Homo sapiens: one gene and its partners. The protein of the gene in region 3 interacts with the protein of the main gene of each other region in a pairwise test. Each region holds a gene or a part of one and is shown on either strand. Other genes may lie near its edges.

Region 1 (7,037 bases), on a different chromosome or scaffold from region 3:
TATGAATTGGAGTCTTTTCTTTTCCAGACCCCACAGCAGGGAGTCCTTAGCTTTGCAAGCCCCAGAAGGTTCCTTTGCTTGGCTCACTTGAAAGACCTAGGCTGGTATCACCCACTTCTTTCAGAAAGGCCAACATTGCCCCAGACTGGGATGTACTCACCATCTTGGCTTCTGATGGTATAGGGTGGCCAGAGGGAGAAATGGAGCCACTACTGTTAACTGGTGGGCCAGGGATACCAGGAATGTTGGGCACCATGGACACAGGTCTGGCCAGCTGGATCGAGAGAAGGAAAAAAAAAAAAAGAGAAGGGAACATAATACCATCGGTGGGGCAACAGTTTCCCTAAAATGAAGCGCTTTTGAGATTGGCACATCAGGGCCTGTTGTGTGCAATGTGCCCATAGGGCGTGCAGGGACAGCCTGGGAAATACCTTTCTCCATGGAGCACCAGAGTAGGGAATTTAATCCTTCAGTGTTGGGGCAATTTCTGTGGGAAGGGTTGGGGCTGTTATCTTGAGGAAATTGTTGGGCAATTTGGGAGGTGCTACGTGCCAAGTGAAAGCAACTAATCAGTGGGCTGGCAAGATCAATTCCTAGACCAGGAGCCAATTGTCCAGATGAGTCTTTATCTAGTGTTCCATAGTGCTGGATTGGCAGAGGTTAGTGAAGAGTTTAGGCAGGCTGCCATGCTCAGCTAATATAGATCAGAGCCCACATTTCCCTGGGGCTCATGTGTATTTTATGACCATTCAGGTGGAAGGGAAGGATTACCATGTTGGTAGGGTTGGCTGCCCCAACTACAGAGCTCACCGATATAACAGACGGCATCTGTACTGGAGGCCCTGGCAACACAGGCATGGTCTGTCCATTAGCAAGATGCATGACAAGAGGGAGGGAGCCAGTGGGAGACCTAGAGGAGACATGAAGTGAAATGCTCATAACACAGACCTTTTGTCCATGGATCTTCCTCTTATAATTACAGAAGATTTTCCAGTCTTCTCTAGTTAGGGAAGGTATAGGGCAGCATGGTAAAAATCTTGACACCCTCATGAAGGTGAGAAGGCAGGGAATCCTATTCAACTTACCTTATAGATGGAGAAAAATGGCAAAATCTTTATACTTTGCAAATTAAGCAAACTCAAATAGTAGGAAGCTAATCCTATTAAAGGGTTTAGAACAATTAAACATTCCTACCACTGGCTTGCCTTGGGAAAGGGGAAGTTGGATCAAAGTCGTCATTTTGCAAAGCTGAGTTAGGTCACATGATGGCCAAATCTGAATGTTTCTCTTGTTTCTTTCCATGGCTTGCTCTACCCTGCCTCAAAAAGAAGTTGTCCCTTTTTATTTTTCCTAGTGGGTCCAGAGAACAATAAGCTCTAAGAATCTGAATCCTGACAACAGCCTCTTAACCCATGGGTACCGTGCCAGGAGTGAAGACAAACAGACAAATAAAATTAGAGGTGGCAAAGACCAAGAACCCTAACTGGGACTGAGGAGACTTAATGGGTTTCAGTGTTTCATTCAGTAGTACCCCAATAGACTTCTACAGGGTGTGGTTTCCACACTGTAATGAACTTCTAATGTTTTAAGAGCTCTTTTTAGATTAAAGAAGTATTAAACCCTTAAATTAAGAAAGTATTACCCCCGGCTGGGCACGGTGGCTCACGCCTGTAATCCCGGCACTTTGGGAGGCAGAGGCAGGCGGATCACGAGGTCAGGAGATCGAGATCGTCCTGGCTAACACGGTGAAACCCCGTCTCTACTAAAAATACAAAAAATTAGCTGGGCGTGGTTGCAGGCGCCTGTGTTCCCAGCTACTCGGGAGGCTGAGGCAGGAGAATGGCCTGAACCCGGGAGACGGAGCTTGCAGTGAGCCGAGATTGCACCACTGCACTCCAGCCTGGGCGACAGAGCGAGCCTCTATCTCAAAAAAACCCAAAAAAAACAAAAAGTATTACCTCCAAATAAATATTTGCTTGTCTATTAAAAAGGTAAAGAAGATTCTGTTTATGGGGGAAAAATTTATTTTGAGAGATAATCTCAGTGACTTATTTTCCTTGGGTATTGGAAAACAGTCCCAGTTTTATCAAATAGTTTCATGTAATGGAAAGAAATGCAGCCTTCACTACTTCTCCCTGCTCTCTGTACTTACCCCATTTGCCTGTTGGATGGTGGAGCCTGTGTGATGACAGAGGTTGGGGAGGGAAGGGTTGGATGAAGTGGATCATAGCCCAAGTGGAGAGGCAGGGAGCCAGGACGTACAATGGTGGGTGTGGGGGTAGAGATCAGAACAGGCTTTGGGGTAACCTCCTGGAGAAAAGAAACCAACAGATCACAAAATGTTTTAAGGTGTGCTTATAGGGAAATATATAGATGGTAAAATCTAGTACAAATTTATTGGAAAGAGCATTAGAGCCACTCATTAAATCATGACCTGATTCCATCAGGATCAGGGACCCATAACTCACTCATCCATTCAGGAGGAATGGTGTATTAAGATCTCTTGGTCATCTCCCCTTTCAGAGACAATGGCTACATAAATAAGATGACAGTTGGAATATCACTTGAAATCTCTGAAGCAGCACTGTAGTACCATATAAATTCTAGAGACTGTTATAATTTTTCACAATCTAGATACTCTCATTCTAAACTTGATACCAAGTGTCCTCTGAACTTCAGTGGGAAAAGGCAGGTATACTGGTAATGATGGTAATGAGGCAACCCAACATCTCCAACACACCTCTTAAAAAAGGGCTATGGAAGTTTGGATAATGATCATACTGTAATAAAACAAACTGCTCTCATTGTTAACTTCTTAAGATCTTAGACTGCCAGTGGTCAAATGGCCTTGACAGCATCCCCAGACAGTCTGTAGGACTTTGTTGCTGATGAAAAGGGAGGAGAGAGGCGGAGGAGGTTGCAGTGAGCTGAGATCGCACCACTGCACTCCAGCCTGGCGACAGAGCGAGACTCTGCCTCAAAAAAAAAAAAAAAAAGAAAAGGGAGGAGATGGGATGGTTGTAATGTTTATGAGAAGACAGATTTGAGAAGTTATCAAGTCAAATTTGGAGGGAAGTAACATGAGATATAGATGCTCTATCCATAGTGGATGTTAAAATTAACAACCACTGGCAGAGCAGTAGATTGAAAGAAGGAGGAAGCATGAGGGGGCTTCTGAGGTTCTAAGAAAATGTTTTTGATCTAGGTGCTGGTTATACAGACTACTGACTTCGTGAAAATTCAGTAAGTGATATAATTACAATTTATATACTTTTCTGTACATGTACTATATTTCAATAAATGTATTAAAAATAGTACTTCATGAAAGTACTTCCTTTAAAAAGAATAATCATCAGACTTCTAGTAGATACTTCCTTTAAATCACTTCTCTCTAGGATGACATTTTTTCGAAACTGTTAGATGTCCAATTTATGAATTATGTGAATTTTTCTTTCTCACTTATTAATTGAAGTATAACATACAGTGATGTGCATTAAAGTCATAACAACAAAATGACTTTTAGGCTGGGTGCGGTGCTCACGTCTGTAATCGCAGCACTTTGGGAGGCTGAAGCAAGAGAATTGCTTGAGCCTGGGAGGCAGACGTTGCAGTGAGCTGAGATTGCACCACTGCACTCCAGCCTGGGCATCAGAGCAAGACTTTCTCTCAAAAGAAAAAAAAAAAAAGATGACTTGTTACAGATGTAAAATCAGGATACAGACCATTTCCAGCACCCCAGAAAGTTCTATGTCCCTTTCCAATCCACACCATTCCTTCACAGGAGGTAAATGCTATCCTGAGTTCTATCATTGTCAAACAGTTTTGCCTCTTCTTGAATTTTATAAGTATGTACTTTTGTGTATGACTTTTTTGTTGTTGTTGGATATGTTTGTGGGATTCACTCACATTGCTGTGTAATTATTAGTTCACTTTTTTTTTTTTTTTGAGACGGAGTTTTGCTCTGTCGCTCAGGCTGGAGTGCAATGGTGCAATCTTGGCTCACTGAAACCCTGGCCTCCTGGGTTCAAGCAATTCTCCTATCTCAGCCTCCCGAGTAGCTGGGATTATAGGCACACACCACCACATCCAGCTAATTTTTGTATTTTTGGTAGAGATGGGGTTTCACTATGTTGGCCAGGCTGGTCTTGAACTCCTGGCCTCAAGTGATTCCACCACCTCGGCCTCCCAAAGTGCTGGGATTACAGGCATGAGCCACCGTGCCTGACTGATTTTTGGCTATTAAGAATACAATTGCTGGCCGGGCGCGGTGGCTCAATCCTGTAACCCTAGCACTTTGGGAGGCCGAGGCGGGCAGATCGCCTGAGGTCAGGAGATCGAGACCAGCCTGACAAATGTGGTGAAACCCCATCTCTACTAAAAGTACAAAAATTAGCCGGGCGTGGTGGCACGCACCTGTAGTCCCAGCTACTTGGGAGGCTGAGGCAGGAGAATCGCTCAAACCTGGGAGGCAGAGGTTGCAGTGAGCCAAGATCACGCCATTGCACTCCAGCCTGGGTGACAGAGTGAGACTGTCTCAACAACAACAACAACAACAAAAGAATACAATTGCTATGAACATTCTAACATACTTCTTTTGGTAGACATATGCACTAATTTCTCTTCCATATAGACTTATAAGTGAAATTGCTGGGAAGGAGAATAGGTATAATTTATATAAATCTTCTAAATATTCCTTTAAATACAATCGGTCCTCCTATAATACATACTTTTTTTTTTCTTGAGACAGTCTCACTCTGTTGCCCAGGCTGGGGTGCAGTGGAGCAATCACAGCTCACTGCAGCCTCGACCTCTAGGGCTTAAGTGATCCTCCACCTCATACTCTCAAGTAGCTGGAACTACAGGCATGCTCCACCACGCCCAGGTAATTTTTGTATTTTAAGTGGAGATGGGGTTTCTCCATGTTGCCCAGGCTGGTCTTGAATTTCTGGGCTCAAGTGATTCTCCCATCTTGGCCTCCTGAGTAGTTAGGACATACTATTTATATAATTAATGAATCAAAACTTTATCAATTAACATTTGAGATGATCCTTGGTAGAGAATTTACCTTCTCCTTCAGTGGTGGGGAACAGGGACTAGAGGCAGGGCTATCAGGTGGGGATGAGTCTACCTCCACTGGCTCTTCTTCTTTGATTTTGATGTCTGGTGTGGAAGGCAGAGACATGTCAAGGGGCCCAGCAGCAGCCTGTTGTGAAAGAAAAATGAACAGAGTTTAACCCTATGATTCCTTTCAGGTTGAATCTATATTTTCCCATTTCCAAGATAAGGGAATATGCTTCTAAGAAGTTCTGCTCTTATACAATGCACTGAACTGCATGTCAAATAAATGTGGGCCCCTTATGTTTGATTTGTTTTGTATTTTGAGGCGTAGTTTCAATCTTGTTGCCCAGGCTAGAGTGCAATGGTGTGATCTCGTCTCACTGCAACTTCCACCTCCCAAGTTCAAGAGATTCTCCCGCCTCAGCCTCCCAAGTAGCTGGGATTATAGGCATGTGCCACCACGCCCAGCTAATTTTTTATTTTTAATAGAGATGGGGTTTCTCCATGTTGGTCAGGCTGATCTCGAACTCCCGACCTCAGGTGATTCACCTGCCTCAGCCTCCCAAAGTGTTGGGATTACAGGAATGAGCCACTGCATCCGGCCAAGAAATATGGGCCCCTTATGTTTTATGTACAATTCTGGCCAAATCATTTTGTCGGTAATTCTCAGGGCTTCTGTTTCCCCAACTATAAGATGAAGATAATACCTGCTTCACCAATGGTAAACAAATATTTATAAAGACCTGAAAAAAAAGATGCCATTTAAATCCATGCAAATATTATGATAATATTTTTCAGGAAATCAAAATAATTCCTGAATCTGCTGGCCACTGGAGAGCTGTGAACACTTTCTCTGCCAACAAGGATTACCCAATTACCAAAAGCAAACAAAGACAAACTGGCTATTCAAGTACTGCAAACCAGATAGGAAAGGTATTTTCTGGGGAACTCACCATGCTTGATGGTGATCTCACCCCAAAATATGGTGCTGGATGTATCAGGTAGACAAGGGGTTTGGGGTAACAGAAAAGAAAGGCTGATCATCTGATTGGTGAAATAAATGACAACTTGGTCTTAGGAGCAAGACTGGAGAAAACCAGAAAGGAAAGAGAGCACTTTCCTGGCAGTGATGCAATCACCTCACAGAACTGTGGAGCTGTAAACGGCCTTGCAGGGAACAATAAACCATCTGAGATAATGGCCTTGACACTGAACCAGGATAGGAGGGTTGGCATTGCAGTTCAGTTTCATAACAAAGTGGATCCTTTGTTCTATCTATCCTGTATCCCAGGCTTCTTGGTGAAGCAACTGCTTGTTTCAAGATCTTCCCTTGCTACCCTAACCCTTAGAAACCTTCTTGATAGCTAGCTGAGTAAATTAAAGATAATGTGATATCTACTACATTAGAGAAGGTAGTAGTGGTTCATTTTCCCCAATCTGAGGAGGGTGAGCAACAGCAAAAGTAGCTTCATTTCTGCCTCATTTTTTCTACATAGCTAAGATGTCAGGTCCAATTTAGCTAATTCTGAGATCTCTTAAGTCAGAGACTAGTGGGAAGGAGAAGCCTCTAAGTAAATACAACCATAGATTTGAAATCCTCTAGGGCATCTCCTAGCAAAGCTGCGGTTCAGCAAAGTTCCACACTCATTAAACACTTCTGGAGACTCTTCCACTGAGCCTGTACTTCTCATTAAGGGGAAGTAAAGACCACTCCTGTACAGGCAGGAGGATACACCAAGGAATGCCCAGTGAGGAAAGGGCTGACTATAAACTAGTCTCCCAGAAGTGTCAACTGAGCTAAAATGGCAATGAAAAAGACTTGAAGCTTTTTATGGGAAGCTAATTTTCTTGAATTTGCCTATAATAAATTGGGTATAAAATCCCTCATAGGCCAAGTGTGGTGGCTCATGCCTGTAATCTCAACACTTTGGGAGGCCAAGGTGGGAGGATCACCTGAGGCCCGAAATTCTAGACCAGCC
Region 2 (7,766 bases), on a different chromosome or scaffold from region 3:
GCAATTTCAAATGGGAACTTAAAAATACACTTTTATTTTGGTATTTTTGTCAGTGCAACTTAAATCCTTTTACTGACCTGCAGAAAAAAAAAAGTAATAATAAAGAAAAACACCCATATCTTCCCTATAACTACTATACAACTGAAGAATTGAAGGGGGGGGACACCACCAAGAACTCTTCCTACTATCTCAAAAGCAGGGAAAGAAACGCAATGCATTGGTCTAAAGAACGCACTTGAAAGTTGCAAAATTACTTGCCAATGTTTGGGTTTCTGGTACATTCTGAGCATAGCAGTTGGTTCAGTGCAGTGTCTGCTTACCAGTGCACTGCCAGGGTCAGGGATGGCTAAGCCTCTCACCCTAGGAGCGCTGTGGCTCCTACAATTAGCGCAGGCCCAGAGGGTTCAGAAGGGACCTCAGGGTGATTCTGGTTACAATAAAAAGCAGAGGGGAGGATCTGTTTTCCTTTCCTTTCCTTTCTTATTAAGGGTATCAATTTGACCATAAGACAAGGCTGTAGTCCAGAACACTCCTCTGGGGTGCGGAGCTTGGCAGCTTCCCTGCCCTGCCCTGCCCTTGTACTGGGACCTCTCGGTTCTCTCTCTCAGCACCAACAAGGTTGAAAACTAAAGCGAGAGAGGAAAAAGAGGACCGAATGGGGATAAGGGAAGGAAAGAAAACATGCAACTTCCAAGTGTGCCCCAAGACAAAGTTGTTTTCTGATGCAAAATGCCCGGAACTTTTTCTTTTTTTTTTTCTTTTTAACTTACAAACAAAAATACCGTAATAATAAACCCAAACAAAGACCCTCAGCTTGCTGCCACGTTCTCTATGCGGTTTGGCGGGGCGGGTATTTACAAGCCTACAGCTGGGACTGAAACCCCGCACGCAGCCGCCGGAGTTTCCAAACTGCGATCCCTTCTCACCCAAAGAAACAAGGGGAGTATGATCCATGATCAACAACATGCTAAAGTTAAACAAGAAAATGGTACAAAATAGAAATTATTACCATACATGTCCAGCATGCAGGATTAATATTTTTAATGCAGATTTTTTGTATTTTTCTATATAATCGAGCAGGCAATAAAACTGATGAGATTTGGGCGCCGAGCGTCCTAACTGAGGCCTGTGTCTCAGGGCTGAGAGCCAGTGTTCTCCGAACTCTGACAGACAGGTCCGTCTGTCCTTCCTTCTTTCGCTCAGCCTCGCCTCTCGCCTGCCGGGACGCCAGAGTCCCTCTCCTTTCCTCGTTGCTCTCTTCCTGGCGCGGACTACTCTCCGGGCAGCAAAGCAGCTGTCCCGGCTTAACGCGCAAAGTTCAGAAAGCCAGGAGTCTCCAGATGGCCTTGGTGACTTCTCGGGACTATGCCTCGCCGCCCTTCAGCCTGGAGAGAAGTTACTCCGGGACCTCCCACCCTCTCGTCTCTCTCTCCGGCTCTGCTCGAGTCTAGGAGGCGGCGCTGGCGTGCGCTACTCTCGCCTTAGCCAAGGTCCCCTGCCCGCCCGCGCACCCGCCCGTCGCCCGCGGCCCGCGCGCCCTTCCTCCCTCTCGCTCAAGTCAAACAGGTCAAGGCTGGGGCCGCGGCAGGGACAGGGTCCGGGGTAGTCTGGGACTAGGGACGTGGGACAGGGAGTCCGGGCCGGGGCAAGGGCGGGGGCCAGGACCGGCCACGACTCACAGAAAGAACTCGGGAGAGGAGGGGCTGTCGCTGGTGGAGCCCGCCTCCCTGAAGCCGGAGTTGGCGAGTTTCTCGCACTTGACCTTGTAGGCGTCTCTCTCGCGGGCCAGCCGGGACACCTCCTGCTTAAGCTGCTCCACCTGCTGAATGAGCTGCGTCTTCTCATTCTCCAGGTGGTGCTTCTGCTGGACGCGTTTATACCTGCAAGACTGGGCGTAGCCCCGGTTCTTCAGGGTCCGCCGCTTCTGCTTCAGGCGGATCACCTCGTCCTTGGTGAAGCCCCGCAGGTGGCGGTTCAGCTCGCGCACGGACATGGACACGAGCTGGTCGTCGGAGAAGCGGTCCTCCACGCTGCCGTTGCCGCCCGCCGCCGTCGCCGAGGCCGTCGCGTGCGGCCCGGGCCCGGGGTGGCTAGTGGGCAGCTGTTGCGCCGGGCTAGCGGCGCTGGACGGCGGCGGCGACGCTTGGTGATGATGGTGATGGTGCGGGTGAGCGTGCGGGCCCAGCTCGTCGTGGGCCACGCCGGCGCCCGGGTACGCGTGGTGCGGGTGAGGGTGGTGGTGATGGTGGTGGTGGTGAGCGCCGCGAAAGCTGTCGAAGCTTTGCAGCGGCTGTGGCACTGGGTGCGAGCCGATGAGCGCTTCCACCGCGTCCTCGGGCGTCAGGTTGAGCGCCTCGGGGTTCATCTGCTGGTAGTTGCTCGCCATCCAGTACAGATCCTCGAGGTGTGTCTTCTGTTCGGTCGGGCTGAAGCTGGGCGACGAGGGCACGGAGCTACACGGAGTGCTGAGCGGTGTGGAGGACACCGAGCCGGCTGGCTGCAGGCGTGTGCAGGGCCTGCCCGGACGCTCCGCGCGCCCCAGTGGCTCCTTCTTCACGTCGAACTTGAGCAGGTCGAAGTCGTTGACATACTCCATGGCCAGCGGGCTGGTGGGCAGCTCTGGCCCCATGCTCAGCTCCGCGGCCATCGCTGAAGCGAGGCGCAGCCGCCGCTGCCGCCCGGGAAACTTTGCGGCCGGCCGGAGCGCGCCGAGCCAAGCGCGGGGGGGAAGAGCGGAGAAGAGCTGGGGAGGCGGGGAGCGAGGGCGCAGCGGGCCGGGGCCGCCGGCCAAGCCTTTGTCTGGGGACGCGGCGGCGCGCCGGAGAGTCCCGAGGCTGCCTGCACCGCCCCAGAGCTCTGGGCTGTGCCCGCGCAGGGACCGGGCCGGGTAGAGTCGGGCGGGGTGGAGAGGCAAGCGGAGCGCGCGGTGGGGCTGAGGGGAGGCGTGGGGCGAGTGCCCGTTGCTCGCTCTCTAGCTCTCTTGCTCTTACGCTCTCTCGCTCGCAGCCGCTCGCAGCTCGGCGGTGCAGCTGTGCTGGATCCGGCGGCGCCGCAGCCTTTTATCGCCTCCTGATGTCACTGGGGTGCGGGGGCCCGGGCGGCCCGGTGCGCGGGCCAATAGCTGCACGGCCTCCGCGGCCCAGCGGCGCAGGGCGGGGCGCGCCTGACAGCTCCCCCGCCCCCCGCGTCAGCTGACTGGCGGCCCGAGCGGCCCCGGAGCGGCGGAGGCCTGGCGGAGCGCTGGAGCGGAGTGGGACGGCCAGCCTGGGCCCACCCCCGTACCCTGCAGGTCCCGGCCCACGCACGCTCGCCTGGAGTGCGCGCCCCACCTCTAGGCCAAATCACCGCTTTCCCCTCCTCGCGCACTCTCCTCCCTCAGTTCCCTTTGCACCCCACCCCCATCCCGTGTCACCCCCAAGGAGGCTCAGAATGAGCGCCGGGACAACGCCTCCTGGGCCCTTTGTTCCCAAGCGGCCCCCGCCCAGTGGGCGACGCTCTGTGTGTCCTCGCGGCTTCTGGCCGTGTGTGTCGTGCGTTCCTGTTTCTGGAGATCTGCGCGTATTTGTATGTTGGGGAGGGCGGGCTCGAGGCTCCGAGAGTTGTGTTCAGACCCAACTCTTAACCTCAGGGGACCTTTCTCAGGCCAAGCGAGGGCCCCTCCTGGCGGGTGCAGTCGCAGAGCCCTGAGGTTCGACTCCACTGGCCCCGCCGCTCCCCGCGTTCACCCCACCGCACAATGTTCACAGTGAAGGCGACGGGAAAAGCAGCAGCCCAAAGGCTCTGAATTCCTCTTCCCCGCCACACGCACGGAATCCTGAGCCCCCGGAGCCTCGGGGCCGAGGCCGGCCCGGGACGGTGCTCCGAGTAGCTCTCCACTGCTGGGGAGCCGGCCCTGTTTTTGTTTGAACGTTTTGTAACGATTAAGCAGATCCCGGCGTCAGCCCGCCGCGGAGAGGCTCAAACAGGCATAAAGTGCGACCCCAAGTGGCCACTGTGCGCAAAGGCGCCGCGACCGCCCGGCCCACGGCCGGAAGGCTTGGACGGCGCCTCGTACCCAGCCAGGTCTCCCCTACCTGGCCCAACCCAAGCCAGCCCAGAACGCATACTATGTGTGCACCAGAGCCCAGGACAGGTTCCCCTCGAGCGATGTACAGGTCCTCGGGTCCCGTCTTCGTACTCAGCCGCGAGCCTCGAGCCGCGAGCTCCGCTCTGGTCGCCCCGTTGAAATTCCGTGCCCCAGCGTTCGGGGGTGCCCGTCGGCTGCTCCCTGGGCCGGAAGGTCCTGGGCGGAGGAAGGCCGGTAGCCAAAAGTGGAAGCGCCACAGTGAAGCGGCCCAGGGCCACCGGGTGAGAAACCTCCCCGGAGGGCAGACGGGGAGACCGAAGCACACCGCACTAGGCATCCAGACTGGGCTTGGGAGCCGCGCACCCTCCCTACCCAGATCCAGGATGGCTAGAATTAACGGGTTCTTTCTGAGACCTCGGCTCAGGCGCCGAAACCGGATAGATCGCGAATTCGCTGGACCCGGAGACCCGACCCGCCTCCCGCGTCACCTTCTTCTTTCTAGCTTTGGGCGCGCGCAGCGAAAGGCAGGAGAGGCGCGCACTGGGTGAGTGAGTCCCGGCCGCTGTCTGCGCTGGACCAGCCCGACTGACCTCGCGCGTAGGGGTCGCGTGAGCCACACCGGTGCAGACGCGCCTAGATTATTTTTAAATGTTAGAAGGTAAAATATTTGCCTCCAATTAATCTGAAAACTCTCTATTCTCTTGCGCCCTCGGAGAGGCTGGGGTACGGCGTGGTATTGGGCCGCCTATTTTTAATAAAATGAGTGTATTTTAACTAAAACTTAACTCAATCTTGTGGGGTGGCAAATTAAATGCTGGAAGAGCGCGTCTACAACCCTCTTCGAGAAGCGTGCTCTCCGCAGAAATGAGTCGGCCGCCTGGAGAGAGAGCCTGGGCGGTGCCGCTGCGCAGCCCCTGCCAGTAGCTGGGGGTTGGGGACTCGCACCTTGTAAATGTCCTCGTCTTGTTTGAACGCAGTGAGAGCACACTCGTTTCCAGATCACTCGGGACCGGGTGTCTCGGATCTGTGCAGACTATGTATGGCTCCGGCCTCAGGCGGCCAGGGCGGGACAAGCACGCCTGACTCTCTTGGTCCCGACTGGACTAGAGCTGGTAGCACCCTCCCTCAGGGTCCTAAGAGACCTGTGGCTCCCAGAGTGTTTCTGCCACTGTGGACTTCTGCGCGGGCACCAAGATGGACAGGCCAAGCTGTGACCCACTCCACCCCCGCCCATACGTCCCCTCGGCTCTGCCTGACACTGGCCGTCGAAGACTTCCGTGGCCCATTAAGGCCCTGGGGATTCCTGAGGCCCCAGGTCTGCGGTTCCGAACCTCCTCTTCTCCTGCGGGCGGCCTGCCTCCGACTCAGGGTCTCTTGGACTCGGGCTTTGGGCAACCGCGCTCTTCTTTGTCCCTGTGCCTCTGTCTCTGTTGTGGTCACTCCCTTCGCCTGGGCTTTGACTGTGGTATCTCTGTCCATCCCCAGGCTCACTTCCCCACCCAAATCCGTTTCTCTGCCCCTCTCCCAGCTTAGCCACTCCCTCCTCTGCACACCCCACAACCTACCCCACCAAAAAAAAATGTTGGAAACAGCCCTACCCCTGCCAGGCTGTGGGTGAATGACGGAGACATGCAGGTGGCCGAGGAGTTAAGGCCGCTGCTGCGCAGCCGGCCCCACTTCGTGGCCTGGCCTCCCCCACCCCGGTTACTGCTGCGCTGACTTGGAGCCCCAGGCCCTATAGCCTCCAACTTCCGACTGCTGTCGCGGGATGCCGCTTCTCATCTCTGGGGTCTCTGGATCAGCATGCCAGGCTCGGCTCCCCGTCATGGATACACAGCAGTGCCCGCAGTCTTCACCCTATCCCTAAAACGTAGGCAGGGTTGAGGTGAGGAGGGTGAGGGATTGCTGCTGTATACCTATTGACTGGGAGTCCGACACGCTCAAAGAAAAAAAGTAAAAGAAGGAACGGTGGAAGAAGTGAAGGGTCGAGGAGAAGTAAAGGGAGGCCAGGAGACACGCGAGCAGTGCACGGAGTCCCAAGGCACACTGAAGGAAATGCACGGAGTCCCAAGGCACACTGAAGGAAAGTCGGGGATTTTGCGGCAGCCACAGCCCCTCTAGTGAACAGCTTGTTGCCAAAACTCCCATTTAAGGTGTTTACCCAAGAGTGACCTCCTCTCTACCCACGCCAGGTTGGGCCAGAGGCTATGCCTCTGGGACGCACCGCCTCGGGATTCTTTAGCTACAAATGGTGATGGAGGAAGCTCTGCAGGGTCCGAGCCGCTGCAGAGCCTTGGAGCATTCGGGGTAGGAGTAAGAGAAGAGGTTATTCCCTAAGGGAGCGTGGAGCCCACAGCCAGCCGCCAGGTGTGAGGTTTGCCGCGCTGCCCTCGTTGGCCCCCACTCAGCCGAGGGAATAACTCCAGAGAGGCCCGGCGGCGTGTCCTCCCGTACGCCTGGAAACCAGAGCGGCATTCCTGGCATCCTCATTCAGCCCGAAGGTGCGCCGTTCACCTTCGGCGTTATTTCCCTGAGGGTTGCAGGTGGTTGGTGAGCGAGGAGGCGTCTCTGTGCACGCATGGGTGCTGTTGGAGGCGTGCGGGAGGGGTGTGTTCGTGCGTGTGCTGTTTGCGCGCGCGTGTGTGTTGGTGGAGAGGCGCAGCAGCACGCGGGATGCGGGAGCGGGAAACTTCCAGCTTCAAAGCTCGGTGGGCTCCGGATCGTACTATGCGGAGTCGCTAAGCAGAGGCCAGTGGTCTCAAGGGCCTCAGAGGCAAGTTCTGCCAGGGAGGGTCCTGAATCAGGGGACCCCCACCTCCCGCCTGCCGCAGGAGCTTGACTTCTGCCTTTGCATCACCCAGATGTAGTGTCACCTGTCTTTTCCAAGGAGCCCTCAGGTCTCTGCCACCTTTTGTGAGGCTCAGTGGAAAAGTATTATGTTGCTCCCATTCCGTGGGATCCTCCCAAGGTCTATGGAACCCAAAAAGAGACAGGAGGGTTTTCTGGGGGATTTTTGTTTCTGTTTTTTGCCCTTACTCTTCCTTTTCCTCTTCCCAAAGGCAGCTATCACTTCCACTTTCCCTTGCCCCATACAACCGCTGTCAGATTCCAACCCAGTGCTTCTAAAAAGGTATTCTTGGGTTTCTGGGTCCTGGTGGTCTTTAGGCAACCAAAAGATTCAGAGGGTCCCAGTAGGGAGCCAGAGTTACACTGACTGTGAAGATCCTGGCTGTCTCTCCTGGGGACCAGGGACAACACCCCAATACATGCAGAAATGTGCACGCGAGCACACACACACACTTAGGGGTAGGAAATTATTATTAAAACTATTTCACTGTTTTTTTTTACTGTGTTCTAATGTGACCAATAAATAATTTTAAATTACACATGTGCCTCACATTCTATTTCTGATGGACAAGCCTGCATTAGATAACCACTGGGCAGTATTGCTTCCAACACAGATGGGATATTTGATAATAGTCACTCTCATTTGTACAGGGAGTTGCAAAGCCTTTTGTCATTCACCTTTTTGTTTTGTTGTTTTTGTTGTTGTTGTTGGTTTGTTTTATTTTATTTTTTGAGATGGAGTCTCACTCTGTTGCCCAGGCTGGAGCCTGGAGTGCAGTGGCGTAATCTCGGCTCACTGCAACCTCCACCTCCTGGGTTCAATCGATTCTCCTGCCTCAGCCTCCCAAGTAGC
Region 3 (2,764 bases):
TGTCCTGGCCTCTGCCCCTAGAAGCCATATCCTATACCCTGCCCCCGAGATTTGTGTCTCTGGGAACTGCCAAGTGTCCCCTAGGCAAGCAAAATCATCCCCAGCTGAGAATCACTATGATTAGACCAGAAGACTTTGCCCTGGATGGCCAATACCGCTGAGCAGCTGCCCAAAGCTTGGTCAGAAGGGCCTGGTTGGAAATTGAATAGGATACAAAGAGCTGACTCGGCAGATAAGTTTTTAAAACTTAATGACTGATAGAGATAATACCCCTTAAGAGTCCCTATACTTCTCTATCCAAACTAACATTAAGTAAAATCAGAAGCAAAGCTAAAATCTGTGCTTCCTAAAACACCTGAATGCTGGAATTTTTTTTTTTTTGAGGCATGATTATCATCAACTAAGGAAAGATTCTCTCCTACAAATTCAGATATACTAATTACCGATCAAAAGACTAAACTGAGTAAATCCACATGAAGTGAGAAAATGAAAATGGAATGTACAATTCTATTCAATTAGAAGCAATTTTAGAGAATTTTATTTAACTGTCAACTTATCACCAACATCTAACATTTTTTAGTTCAGGTACATTTGGGTAAGAACATTAGGGAGAAATGTAAATTAAATACTATGAAACTATGCTTTTAATGAAACATGGTCTCAGTAAAATATGGACACAAAAGTTTAGTGGTTTTATTGCATTGTTAGAAAATTATATTATGAAAGATATAAAAAAATCAATGTTTTTCTGCTTCTTTTATAATCAGTATGCCATCTTCTACCATTATGGCTTTAATTTTCATTCTACCCAACAAGTTTCAAAGAATAGTTTATTACATGCCTTAATAAAACATTTAAAATATTTACAGATTCAAAATAGATGTTTTATAACTGAAAAAAGTTCACCTGAGAATTCACCGTAACATTGCCATTTTTTTCCCAAGTTGTTAATGTGACTGAGTGTCCACATGCAACCTGTATCGTCTACTGCATCTAACATACTTATTTCCTTATTTAAAATTAGTTAAGCAGTAAGCTATAGCAAACTGTTAAAAAAAATTACAGATGGAGAACCAAGACTGTATCCACATTTGTTTTGAATATGACAATTTAACGAATTATTTGCTATAGTTCCAGAATTTGAATAAGAAAAAAAATAAGGTAATGTTATTTTACTGAATTCAACATAACAGCTTTTAAAAAATCATCAAACATTGAGAAGGCCAGTTCATAAAATAGTGAACAATGATCATGTGAATATGCAATATACAAACTGAAAACATTTCAAAATTCTGCATGAAGGAAAAGGCATACACTGTATACTCATAATCCTGTCATTTGTCTTCGGCAGCCTCAAAAAAAATATTGCCTTGAAACATTTTCTTAGAAAAAACTTCTTTAGAAGTTAATGTTAAAATAGGCATAAATGTGTAATGCTATGCAATATACAGAAAACTTTCCCACTTATGGCCAAAAGACAAACGTAAAATCTTTTTTATCTGTCCATCTGCATTACAACTTGAAAATCATGTAGATATGAGGTAGTGTAGTTACTTGTATTACATGCTGGCTATTTAAAGTAATGCTAAATTTTAAGAAATTACACTTGGCCAATAATTCTGTGTCATTAATAGAAACCCTTAATGCTAAACTGTTTATAGGTAGAGAGAAATTTAAACCAAGTGCTTTACAAATTATATTTAAGCTCTGGAGACAACTACATTTTATCATAAAATAGTAGGTAATCTTTCAAAGCAAGTACAGTAGCAATTAAAGCAAAAGATTATTTGACATTTGCACATACACAAACTGATACAACCAATAGTTGGGTGTACACTGAGGTAGGAAATCAAGGGTTCCATTGGCTTAAGATTTTACATTTTGTAAACCAGAAGTTCTTATATTATTTTATATCGTGAAGCTGAAATTTAAAATTACAAGTATCAAAGAAATACCTATATGGAGAGATATATATGTATACATACACATACACACACACACACACACACACACACACACACACAAATTCTTTTGCAGTATGGGATGCACTATCAGAATTATTCTCCCTGACAAATTCTTGAGTGTACTTATAAAAGCTACTAGAAAATAAACAAGTCCAACTAATTTTCTCTTACAAATAAGTCAGTGACAGAGAGAACATACAAACCACTGAAAATATACTAGCAATATCCTCCCCCTACACCCTGATCAAAAAGGGTAACATTTGACAAATTACTCCAAGACATGAAGACTGGTCCCCATATACTCTCAAGGGCAAGGCCAACTTGCTTCAGACTTGTTCATACACAGTGGGTGGTGGCTGCCCACATTAGCTAGACAAGCCCTGCACTAGGCTCAGGATGCAGTCTATAGAAGTGTCTCTTTCAGCCCTCTGATTTTGGTGAAATCAACACTATAAACTACTCCTCTGTACCATTAAAACTGGGTTCTGCCAATGTTTCTGTGAATGTGAATATATGCATTTTTTTTAATTGCTGAGAAGATCCATAGCTTTCATTTGACTCTCAAACACATCTAACCCCAGCATGGCTAAAAGCCACCGCAAAATGTTATGCGATAGGTGCTCAGTTATCTATTTTGTAACAGGACTGAACAAACACTAAGACTGATCTTTAAATGTCCAAGTTAAAATGATTTGTGTGTCTTTATACCACACCAAATTTGGAGAAGAGAGCAAGGATTCAACCTGCTTTTCAAATGCAAACCCACAATAGAAAAAGATTGAGTTTCATCCTATTTCACA

What was found. Proteins that work in one complex are often made in the same cells at the same time.
Region 1: the proteins of BACH1 (region 3) and ATF7 interact in binary tests that used the Homo sapiens proteins (3 or more experiments, as listed by UniProt).
Region 2: the proteins of BACH1 (region 3) and MAFB interact in binary tests that used the Homo sapiens proteins (3 or more experiments, as listed by UniProt).

The regions. Positions count from the first base shown.
Region 1 is NC_000012.12:53,532,350-53,539,386, forward strand, and holds part of ATF7 (cyclic AMP-dependent transcription factor ATF-7), read right to left. Parts: intron 5,992-7,037; exon of another isoform or gene 5,857-5,991; intron 5,204-5,856; coding exon 5,066-5,203; intron 3,244-5,065; exon of another isoform or gene 3,017-3,243; intron 2,311-3,016; coding exon 2,153-2,310; intron 911-2,152; coding exon 811-910; intron 275-810; coding exon 161-274; intron 1-160. Other genes in the region: ATF7-NPFF readthrough protein, read right to left, coding at 161-274, 811-910, 2,153-2,310, 5,066-5,203. UniProt on the Homo sapiens protein: Stress-responsive chromatin regulator that plays a role in various biological processes including innate immunological memory, adipocyte differentiation or telomerase regulation.
Region 2 is NC_000020.11:40,686,204-40,693,969, forward strand, and holds the start of MAFB (transcription factor MafB), read right to left. Parts: upstream 3,034-7,766; 5' UTR 2,648-3,033; coding exon 1,676-2,647; 3' UTR 1-1,675.
Region 3 is NC_000021.9:29,343,895-29,346,658, reverse strand, and holds the end of BACH1 (transcription regulator protein BACH1), read right to left. Parts: 3' UTR 511-2,764; downstream 1-510. UniProt on the Homo sapiens protein: Transcriptional regulator that acts as a repressor or activator, depending on the context. Binds to NF-E2 DNA binding sites. Plays important roles in coordinating transcription activation and repression by MAFK.